3 linked regions of the Homo sapiens genome follow. The protein of the gene in region 3 purifies or fractionates together with the protein of the main gene of each other region. This does not show direct contact. Each region holds a gene or a part of one and is shown on either strand. Other genes may lie near its edges. The genes, in order: MCFD2, FAIM and SEPHS1.

Evidence for each region.
Region 1: the proteins of SEPHS1 (region 3) and MCFD2 fractionate together in Homo sapiens (co-fractionation; one large-scale study listed by BioGRID). This does not show direct contact.
Region 2: the proteins of SEPHS1 (region 3) and FAIM fractionate together in Homo sapiens (co-fractionation; one large-scale study listed by BioGRID). This does not show direct contact.

Annotation. Positions count from the first base shown.
Region 1 is NC_000002.12:46,905,807-46,909,458, reverse strand, and holds part of MCFD2 (multiple coagulation factor deficiency protein 2 isoform A precursor), read left to right. Parts: intron 1-281; 5' UTR 282-287; coding exon 288-436; intron 437-780; exon of another isoform or gene 781-1,489; coding exon 1,490-1,649; exon of another isoform or gene 1,650-2,575; intron 2,576-3,652. UniProt on the Homo sapiens protein: The MCFD2-LMAN1 complex forms a specific cargo receptor for the ER-to-Golgi transport of selected proteins. Plays a role in the secretion of coagulation factors.
Region 2 is NC_000003.12:138,622,122-138,625,773, forward strand, and holds part of FAIM (fas apoptotic inhibitory molecule 1), read left to right. Parts: intron 1-66; coding exon 67-295; intron 296-3,652. UniProt on the Homo sapiens protein: Plays a role as an inducible effector molecule that mediates Fas resistance produced by surface Ig engagement in B cells.
Region 3 is NC_000010.11:13,317,155-13,320,806, reverse strand, and holds the end of SEPHS1 (selenide, water dikinase 1), read left to right. Parts: intron 1-1,450; coding exon 1,451-1,665; 3' UTR 1,666-3,379; downstream 3,380-3,652. UniProt on the Homo sapiens protein: Synthesizes selenophosphate from selenide and ATP.

The sequences.
Region 1 (3,652 bases), on a different chromosome or scaffold from region 3:
GCAAGAATAATCTTCCAGTCCCTTCAAGCTTTCACGTGTTGCTTGGCACTCTGCAGGCACTTCAGGAAACCTCGTGAGCCTTCCCCTGCCATTTGAGTGACTTGGAGTGCCCAGGGTCATCCCACAGTCTCAAAGCAGAGCTGGCATTGGGCCGTGTTTGACAAGCTCTCTTCCTAACCTTACTGCTTCATCAGGTTTCCCAGGATCATACCATGTCAAGCCCTGAACGAAACCTTTGCTCTGATGCTCTGCCTTCCTCTTCTGTGTTTCCCATCTCACAGATATTGATGACCATGAGATCCCTGCTCAGAACCCCCTTCCTGTGTGGCCTGCTCTGGGCCTTTTGTGCCCCAGGCGCCAGGGCTGAGGAGCCTGCAGCCAGCTTCTCCCAACCCGGCAGCATGGGCCTGGATAAGAACACAGTGCACGACCAAGAGTACGTATTCAGCCCGGGCTGTGGTCCAGTGGCCTCCCCATCATCTGCAGCTGAGCCAGCGGCAAGGGCATGCTCAGTCCTCCTTTCCTTCTTCCTGTTTCTATGGCTCCTTGACATTCTTCAAGGATGATTCTTATTCCTTATTGCCACCTATAAGTCAGGTATTCTTTTTTCATCATTGTATCACAGGTGGAAGATCTTTAGGCCCAAATGGGGCACATTACTTGTCTGAATCCGGTCTCTCCTTTTTTTCACCACAGACAGACACACACACATACAAATAGACACACAGGTACACATACACAGTCATAGTAGCAGAATCCAGAAAATAGCTAAGGTTTCTTGACTATAACAAGACCTTTTTTAAATCAACACATTCAAACATTGAATCATTTGTTGCAGCTTTTGTCTTGGGCCAGTTAGCCTCACGCATTATACTCGGTTATCCTTTGTTTTTAAGGCTGGGTGCAGTGGCTCACACCTGTAATCCCAGTGCTTTGGGAGGCTGAGGCAGGTGGATTACTTGAGCCCAGGAATTCGAGACCAGCCTAGGCAATATAGGGAAAACCTGTCTCTACTAAAAAATTGCAAAAAATTAGCTGGATGTGGCAGTACATGCCTATGGTCCCAGCTACTTGGGGGGCTGAAGTGGGAGAATCAACTGAGCTTGGGAAGTTGAGGCTACAATGAGCCAAGATCACGCTCCTGCACTCCAGCCTGGGTGGCAGAGTGAGACCCTGTCTCAAAAAAAAAAAAAAGTTTTAAAGGACATATTTTTAAATTGATGGCCTGAAAATGTTATAACAAAATTCTAATAATAAAGAGGAAAGAATACCCTAATCCTGCCAGCATAACAGATGGTCTATTTGACTTTTCCTGCTCCTCTCAAGGCCTTGTCTATCTCTGTGTAATCCTTGAGTGTGGTCTGCCACTGCTGGTGTTTGTTTTTCTGAGCTGGAGGAAGTTTAAGATCTTGAACTTTTCAGAGTCCTTAAGATTTCAGCATGATCCCAGTATCTGTCAATTGGCCTGAACCTGACTGTTGATTTTTAGGCATATCATGGAGCATCTAGAAGGTGTCATCAACAAACCAGAGGCGGAGATGTCGCCACAAGAATTGCAGCTCCATTACTTCAAAATGCATGATTATGATGGCAATAATTTGCTTGATGGCTTAGAACTCTCCACAGCCATCACTCATGTCCATAAGGAGGTAGGTCTGGCAGTGGCTTGGGGGACTGTATCACAGAAAGGCTTCCCTTTGTTAATTTGGTCCCCAGTCTTGTTGACTTGTGTTGTCCTTATGTGCCAAGAGTGCTGCTTCTCCACTGGGCATGATGGCTCGCATCTGTAATCCCAGCACTTTGGGAGGCCAAAGTGGAAGGATCACTTGAGCCAGGAGTTCAAGACCAGCCTTGGCAATATAGTGAGACCCTGTCTCTACAAAACAAACAAAACAAAAATTAAAAAATTAGCCAGGCCTGGTAGTGCATGCCCGTAGTTCTACGTACTCAGGAGGCTAAGGTGGGAGGATTGCTTGAGTCCAGGATGTCGAGGCTATAGTGAGCCATAATCATGCCACCGCACTTCAGCCTGGGCAACAGAGTGAGGCCTTGTCTCAAAAAGAGAAAAAAAGAAAAGAAAAAAAAAGGTGCTGCTGCTTCTTTCTCTTCTGTGTTCTGCCTCTTTCTGTCCAACGATCCTTCCCGCAAAGGATAACTTGCTGAGGCAGAAGTCCCAGGGCTGGGCATTTGTATCTTTAAGTGCTACAGGCATTTCTGTTACACACCAGAGTATGAGAATCAGTGCCTAAAAGACAGACCGTATTCAAACTGCAGAGCAAGGGAGAAGTTGTTTAATGGTGAATTGACACCAAGGGATTCAGGGACGTGGCAGTAATTGAGGGCTTGTGTGATACTGTATGGTGCTCCAAAGTTTCTGAAGCCCTTTCAAGTAGGTTAGAGATCTCGTTGGATCTTTGCAACATCTTGAGTAGGCAGTGGCAGGCATTGTTAATACTTCCATTTTCAGTGGTGCATGCCTGTAGTCCCAGCTACTCATGATGCTGAAGTAGGAGGATCACTTGAACCTGAGAGGTTGAGGCTGTGGCAAGCTGCGATGTTGCCACTGAATTCCAGCCTGGGCAATAGAGCGAGATCCTGTCTCAGAAAACAAAAAACAAACAAAACCCTCCCATTTTCTAGGTGAAGACACTGAAATCAAGATCTTGTGCCAGGCTAAGCACAGTGGCTCATGCCTATTATCCCAGCACTTTGGGAGGTTGAGGCAGGAGGATCGCTTGAGCCCAGGAGTTCAAGACCAACCTGGGCAGCATGGTGATATCCCGTCTCTACAAAAATTAGCTGGACATAGTGATGCTTGCCTGTAATCCCAGCTGCTGGGGTGACGGGGTGGGAGGGTAGTGGGGAGGAACACCTGAGCCTGGGAGGTCGAGGCTGCAGTGAGCTGTGATCGTGCTACTGGACTCCAGCCTGGGTGACAGAGTCAGACCCTGTCTCAAAAAAAAAAAAAAAAAAAAAAAAAAAATCCTCGTGCCTCCACATTTAATGTCATTCCCCTTCTGCCACACTGCCCTCTATAGAGAGGAAGCAAGGCAAAGTTAGCCAGGTGAGTGGGATTACATTCGCTGCTAGGAGTGCAGGTGAGGTTTGAAGGCAGCAGGGAGCATGAATGATTTTGCACAGGAGAATGGCATTGTTTAGGGAAGATCCTTGGTTGTGGGAGACAGACTGAAGGACATGAGGAGAGACTAGTGTTAGGCGGAGGAATTAGGGGTCAGCAGTCCTGGCAGATGAGGATAGTGGTGGTGACAGGAGAGGGAATGGTGAATGTGGGAGATGTGGCAAAGGAAGAACCAGCCAAGGATGTGAACAGCCTCAGCCCACTAACCCTGCTCTTGGAGCATGGGAAATACTTTCTCCTCAAAGATCATAACAGGTTCTGCTCATCGGCAGTGCCTTCTTCCTCTTGTTTTGATGCCAACTTGTTGTCCAATTCGTCACTGTTTCTATTTTATCAGGCAAATTTGTGCACAGAGCTGACCCTCAGGAGGACTGGCACTTTTCCAATTAAAGAAGAATGAGCCATAATGAAACAAATAAGCAAAAGCCTATTTTGAAGGGCCTTCTTTTAACTGGCAAATGTAATTTCTAAACTGGATTATGATAAATTGACTCAATAATACATATTCTCTCT
Region 2 (3,652 bases), on a different chromosome or scaffold from region 3:
TTATTTCTAAAATTAGATATCAATTTTTCTTCCATTTGTTTCATATTTTTCTGTTTTATTATGTAGGAAGAGATAAGAAAAGAGTGGATGTTCAAATTAGTGGGCAAAGAAACATTCTATGTTGGAGCTGCAAAGACAAAAGCGACCATAAATATAGACGCTATCAGTGGTTTTGCTTATGAATATACTCTGGAAATTAATGGGAAAAGTCTCAAGAAGTATATGGAGGACAGATCAAAAACCACCAATACTTGGGTATTACACATGGATGGTGAGAACTTTAGAATTGTTTTGGGTAAGTTAGTGCTGTTTCCGCAGAACTTTTTTTTTTTTTTTATAATGTCTGTTTAATTCCTGTAACTGTATTCAGACCTTCTATGGAGGTTTGAAAAGAAGAGGGAGTGTAAGTGCAGGTGTATTTCATTTGTTTAGAAACATTAAAAAAATTTTTTGTTTCCTATCTGCTTGGGATTGTCTAGCAGGTGTGTATATTGTCCAGCAGGTGTATTTCTAATGTGTCCTGAGTAAATGAAGCATTCATTTAATCCACCATTTTATATATAAGATATCTTAAGCCAGGTTTTATAGTGATGGATTTGAGGATTATAAATTTAGGTTTTAAAAAAATGTAATATTGCCAGGCGCAGTGACTCATGCTTGTAATCCCAGCACTTTGGTAGGCTGAGGCGGGTGGATCACCTGAGGTCAGGAGTTTGAGACCAGCCTGGCCAACATGGTGAAACCCCGTCCCTACTAAAAATACAAAAATTAGCAGGACATAGTGGCACATGCCTGTAATCCCAGCTACTCGGGAGGCTGAGGCAGGGGAAATCACTTGAATCCAGGAGGCGGAGATTGCAATGAGCCGAGATCGCACCACTGCATTCCAGTCTCAAAAAAAGCAAGACTCCATCTCAAAAAAAAAAAAAAAAGTAATATTGATGTAGATTTTGGTATTATTTGGTATTTCTCTTTATAAATATATCTTAAAGGCAGTTGGAAATTTAGGATTTATCAGTAAGAAAGCAATATTTTCCTAGATAACAATAGGCTTAGGACTGCATCAGATCAAAATTATCAAAGTCTAGGACTTTTTGAAGAGTTTTTTTTGTTTGTTTTTCTAGGCTTTTCTGTTTGGGTTTCTCTTTTCTTATGGGAAGCAGATATATATCTTTTCTTTGCCCATATTCCTATGTCTTTTAGCAGTTTTACTCGTGTTCTCTATTGCTTGGAATTCTTTTCATTCTTTTATGTTTTTGAGACAGAGTCTCACTTTGTCGCCCAGGCTGGAATGCAGTGGTGTGCATGAACATGGCTCACTGCAGCCTTGTCCTCCTGGGCTCAAGTGATCCTCCAGCCTCAGCCTCCCGAGTAGCTGGGACCACAGGTCCATGTCACCATGCCAGGCTAACTTTAAAAAAATTTTTTGTAGAGACAGGGTCTTGCCATGTTGGCCAGGCTAATCTAGAGCTCCTGGGCTCAAGTGATCCTCCTGCCTCAGCCTCCAAAAGTGCTGGGATTACAGGTGTGAGCAGCTGTGCCCACCCTTCTTTTCATTCTTAACAACAATATTCTTGGAAGTCTGTTGCCCTCCTGTTCTAAGTATCCAAGTCTGCTGCTTTGTGGCCACCCTAGGCTTTCTTTCATGGAACCCTTTTGTTCTTCCAGTTATTGAACCCCACAACTCCTGCTTTCATCTTTGTTTACTGGAATATATTCCTTAGGTAATCTCCTGATAAAGGGTGTCTAAGAAATAAACATTACTTTGATCCTCATGCTAAGTTGATAGTTTTGTTCAGTACAGAGTTTTAATTTCAAACTCACTTTCTCTCAGAATTTTTGAAACCCTTATTCCAGTAGCTTCTATTCTCCATTGTTTTAAATGAAAAGTTTTGTGCCAATCTGAATCTCATTTTTTTCTTTCCAGAAGGTTTTGGGAGCTCATCTTATCCCTTATATTTCCAAATTTCATAGTGATATGTTTAGGAATATAGTTACTCAACCTGCAATAAAGTTTTAGAACCACTGGATCTCATTAATAATGGAAATTTTAGTTTTTAAAAGGATTATGATTAGTGTCAACACACTTAAACATATGGGACTTTAACAGATGATGAAACCAGGCCTTTAAATTAATTTTAGGTACTTAATCAGCTGCTTTGCCAACTTGTAATACAATTGATATTAACTTTTCCTAGGTGAAATGGAAGAGACTGCCTGAGCTATGCCTAGCATACAGTTAGTTCTCTTTTAAATGTCCAGGGGCCTGCTTATCTACTTGTGAATTATCTCGGGTCTTTAAAAAATATATTTTTCTGCTTTTACTCCTTGTCTGCCTTTACTCTTCTTTATCCATTTGCAATCCCTCATGAGCCTGGAAATGAGACAGAGTTCAGCCCCAACTTGTCCCTTTTGCTGTTTGGAAGGGATAAGGGACCAGAGTTGTTTACTGAGGTAAAGGCAAAATTGCATATGTTATTGATATTGCTTGCACTTCTGCTTCCAAGATCCATCAAACTTTGGACTATGCTGACTACAGCCTACATTTTACAGATTAGTTATGAAGAATGCAGGCTCCAGGATCAGAGCTGTGTGATGGGCAAATTACTTAACCTCTGAACCTTGGTTTCCTCATCTGTAAAATGGGGATAATGTAACTCCCTCACAGAGTTGTGATATGAGTGAAGTTTAATTGATTTAGTACATGTAAAGTACTTAACAGTGTTTCTCACATTGTGAATTCTTTAAAAATATTATTTGTCAGCCAGGTGCAGTGGCTCACACCTGTAATCCCAGCACTTTGGGAGGCTGAAGTGGGAGGATCGCTTGAGCCCAGGAGTTCAAGACCAGCCTGGGCAACATAGGGAGACCTCATCTCTTCAAAATATTTAAAAATTAGCTAAGTGTAGTGGCACATGCCTGTAGTCCCAACTACTTGGGAGGCTGAGGCGAGAGGATCACTTGAGCCTAGGGGTTCAAGGTTGCAGTGAGCTAAATTGCACCACTGCATTCCAGCATGGATGACAGAGTGAGACCCTGCCTCAAAATTTTAATAATTTGGCTGGGCATGGTAGCTCACACCTGTAATCCCAGCACTGTGGGAGGCCAAGGCAGGTGGATCACTTGAGGTCAGGAGTTCGAGACCAGCCTGACCAACATGGTGAAACCCCATCTCTACTAAAAATACAAAAATTAGCTGGGCGTGGTGGTGGGCACCTGTAATCCCAGCTACTCGGGAGGCTGAGGCAGGAGAATTGCTTGAGCCTGGGAGGCGGAGGTTGCAGTGAGCTGAGATTGCGCCACTGCACTCCAGCCTGGGTGACCAAGCAAGACTCTGTCTCAAAAAAAAAAAAAATTGATAATAATTTAAAAATATTATTTGTGGTGATTATTACTACTCATGGGCAAAGAATGGGCTTATCTAGAGTCTCCTGGTAAAATTCACTCTTGTATGTTATGTGGCAAGTTTCAAATAACAATATTATATGACTTGCTAAATTTTATATTGAGAAATTAGAGCAAGGCCACAAAAAAGCTTTGAATAACAAAACATTATGATTTACTAAGGTCATATTATGTGCCAGATACTATACTAGGCACTTTATATAATTATTTCTAACCCTTATAACAGCCTATGGGAAAGGTGGTATCA
Region 3 (3,652 bases):
ACCCAGGCTGGAGTGCAATGGCGCGATCTCAGCTCACTGCAACCTCCCCCTCCCCGGTTCAAGCGATTCTCTTGCCTCAGCCCGAGTAGCTGGGATTACAGGGCTGTGCCATCATGCCCAGCTAATTTAGAGACGAGGTTTTACCATGTTGGCCAGGCTGGTCTTGAACTACCTCCTGACCTCAGGTGATCCACCCGCCTCGGCCTCCCAAAGTGCTGGGATTACACGTGTGACCCACCATGCCCAGCCACAAGGTTTTTACATTTTGTAGAAGTAGACTACAGTTTTTCCTCATCATCTTATTTCTACTTAGAGAAATAAATTTTGGCCCGGTGCAGTGGCTCACGCCTGTAATCCCAGCACTTTGGGAGGCCAAGGCGGGTGGATCACGAGGTCAGGAGATCGAGACCATCCTGGCTAACACGGTGAAACCCTGTCTCTACTAAAAATACAAAAAATTAGCCGGGTGTGGTGGCGGGCGCCTGTAGTCCCAGCTACTCAGGAGGCTGAGGCAGGAGAATGGTGTGAACCCGGGAGGTGGAGCTTGCAGTGAGCCGAGATCACACCACTGCAATCCAACCTGGGAGACAGCGAGACTCCGTCTCAAAAAAAAAAAAAATTTATGGCCTATTTACTGGAAAGAGCAACAAAGGTTTATTTTAATGTATTTTATACTGTTTGTCTTTTGGATATAATGACAGAGTCATGACTGGAACCTAGATACTTTGGGGCATACACTGTTTCATGAGTCTTAAATTTTCTAAAAATACAAAAAAGCATTCTCGGTAAAATGAGAGAGTCGATGTAGAGAATCAAAAGTTCCCTTTTGTTTGTCAATATTTGTTTCAGTGTAGCTTGGAAAAAATAGCTACCACATGGGTTATTGAAGCCCCAAACACCTTACCCCTACACAGTGTTATGTGGTTCACGAATAGGTCATTTTCACAGTTGAAAGTTGGAGTGTATATGTGTGTGTGTTAGGAGTTTACTAGCAATTGCTTAATTACAGCATAGAACAGGCCTCTTAGGCTGGGAGTGGTGGTTCATTCCTGTAATCTCAGCACTTTGGGAGGCCAAGGCAGGTGGATTGCTTGAGTCCAGGAGTTTTAGACCAGCCTGGACAACACAGTGAAACCTTGTCTCTACAGAAAATTAGCCAGGTGTGGTGGTGCACACTTGTAATCACAGCTACTGGGAAAGCTGAAGTGGGAGGGTCACCTGAGCCAGGACATTGAGGCTGCAGTGAGCTGTGATTGTACCACTGCACTCCAGCTTGGGCCACAGAGTGAGACCCTGTCTCAAAAAAAAGCTGCTTAGTTGAATGGGAAGAGCTACTTGCATATAGGTGGCAGCAAGTTGTTGATGGAAGTTGGATCTCTGCAGAAGCAGCAGAGGCAGAGAAGCTGCTGTCATGTCAACACTAACAGTCATTCTTGTTTTCTTTTGCCAGGCGGCCTTCTGATCTGTTTACCACGTGAGCAAGCAGCTCGGTTCTGTGCAGAGATAAAGTCCCCCAAATATGGTGAAGGCCACCAAGCATGGATTATTGGGATTGTAGAGAAGGGCAACCGCACAGCCAGAATCATAGACAAACCCCGGATCATCGAGGTCGCACCACAAGTGGCCACTCAAAATGTGAATCCCACACCCGGGGCCACCTCTTAATCTAGACAGAAATAGCTGTTTGGTTTTGTTTTTAAATAGATCTATTTCCCTTATCACTTCAATTAAAGACTATAAACAACAAAAATCTCATTGTGTCTACACATCGGGGTGACCTTAGGTCGGTTTGTAAGTGGATACAATTAATAAAATAAAATCCATTGCCTTTTTTTCCTGTTACATTAACTGAAGATGCACCTAATCTTGAGGCAGCTTCTGAGTTGAGAATTATATTGTTATCCAATACTGTTGATTCATTTTGAATCTTTAGACACTTATCTCTTGCCGCATAGGCTTTTTAAAGGTGCTTTCACATAGCACAGGCATTACCCGTAGTCGTGTCAAATAGCAGTTGGTGTCTTCATTTTATGTATATTTATCATATAAGTCTGATTTTTTTTTTTAAGCGTCTTGAATGGTTTTCTGGAGAGACAGCATTGGTAAGTGGCACATGACGGTATCCCAGTCATAAGAGGGTTGCATGATTCCTTTGAGTGTTTGATTTGAAAAGCCTAGTCTTGTCTCTCAAGAGCATCTCGGACCCAGAACATTCTCCAGTAGTGCATTCAGTTCAACACAGCAAGTGCTTCATTGCATGGAAAACACTTTGAAGACAAAAAAGAAATCTTATTTCTTTTTTTGTAGCCTTCCTGATATTTACAGTAATACCATTAACTGTTTTATCGATAGCAAAAAAGGATACTTTTTGCAATGTTATTAGATGTTCTATAGTGCTACAAGGAATTGCCTTCCGAATGGAGGTTCATGTATAATACTCATTTACAATTCAATATATAATTACACAAATAATTTTTAAATATAATCAATAGTAAAGACTGTTCTGTGGATGGTAGTGTTTAATACATTTTCTATTTTGTACAGTGATTTCAGGCCTTTTGTTTTCTTAAAATCAGCAGCTGTTTGGCCTAATTCTTAGCATTATTTTGTCCTTTGCGCCAGTACTTTTTTGTGCACGCTTTTTGTGATCTGTGTTAAAAACCTGCATTGCCAACATTGCAGCTCGAACTTAAACTTGTTATTCAAATAAATATTTAATTTTTTAAATTGCTCTTGTATAATCAGATGCCCCTTTTAGTATTATTTTAGAAGCGTTGGGAGGGTTTTGCCTAAAGTACAATTTATCGGGAAAAACTAGATTTTAGTTTTATAAAACTTTTAAGTCTTTCATGGGACCTATATTTTCTTGAATTAAATTTTGTAGTTCTAGAATAAATAGGCAATCTAAAAAGGTGTTCTCTGTGTTATGTAAAGTGGAGGCTTCCTTATATTTTAACCTACTAAGCAATGAGGAGGGATTCCTGTCATTAAGCACAAGGGCGCTGGATCCTCAAGTGCCCATCTTCGTGAGAGAAAAAGCAGCACATCCTGCCCATTTCTGGTGCTTTCTGCTCACAGGCACCAAAGCTGCACATGTAAACTGACTTCTTGCCAAAGGAAATGACCCCTGGGAAGTTCAAGCTCCTGGAAGAGGCTTTAACTCGGACGCGCCCTCCTCCAGGAACCAGTGGGCAGGGCAGCCTTCATGCATGTGTAACTGGACCTCCAGCCATAAGCATGGTGTGCAGTATGGAAGAGCCTGCTACGGAACTGAAAGTGATTGGACATTTTATAGGAATTGATAGAGATGTTGGTCCTCAAAAGCTACAAACCAGTGGTCTGCAAAATAAAGTGTGTTGGAAACCTCTAGTGAGATAAACCTACTGTTGAGCTTTTTTTTTTTTTTTTTTTTAAATAACGATGACTGAACTTCAGTGTAGCCTGTGCCGTGAGAGCTGGTGTTTTCCTCAGTGGCAGGCCTATTGAGAGGAGGGAGCTAAGTGGAGTATGTACTTAAGGAAATAATATTTGTGAAGATTGATATTTATAAAGAGAAAATGTTGGGTACTTAGAGGTCCGTGTAAGTCTTATGATCCCAAGAGGAAGAATTTGTATTTAAAGCAGTGTTGGCTGGGCATGGTGGCTCACACCT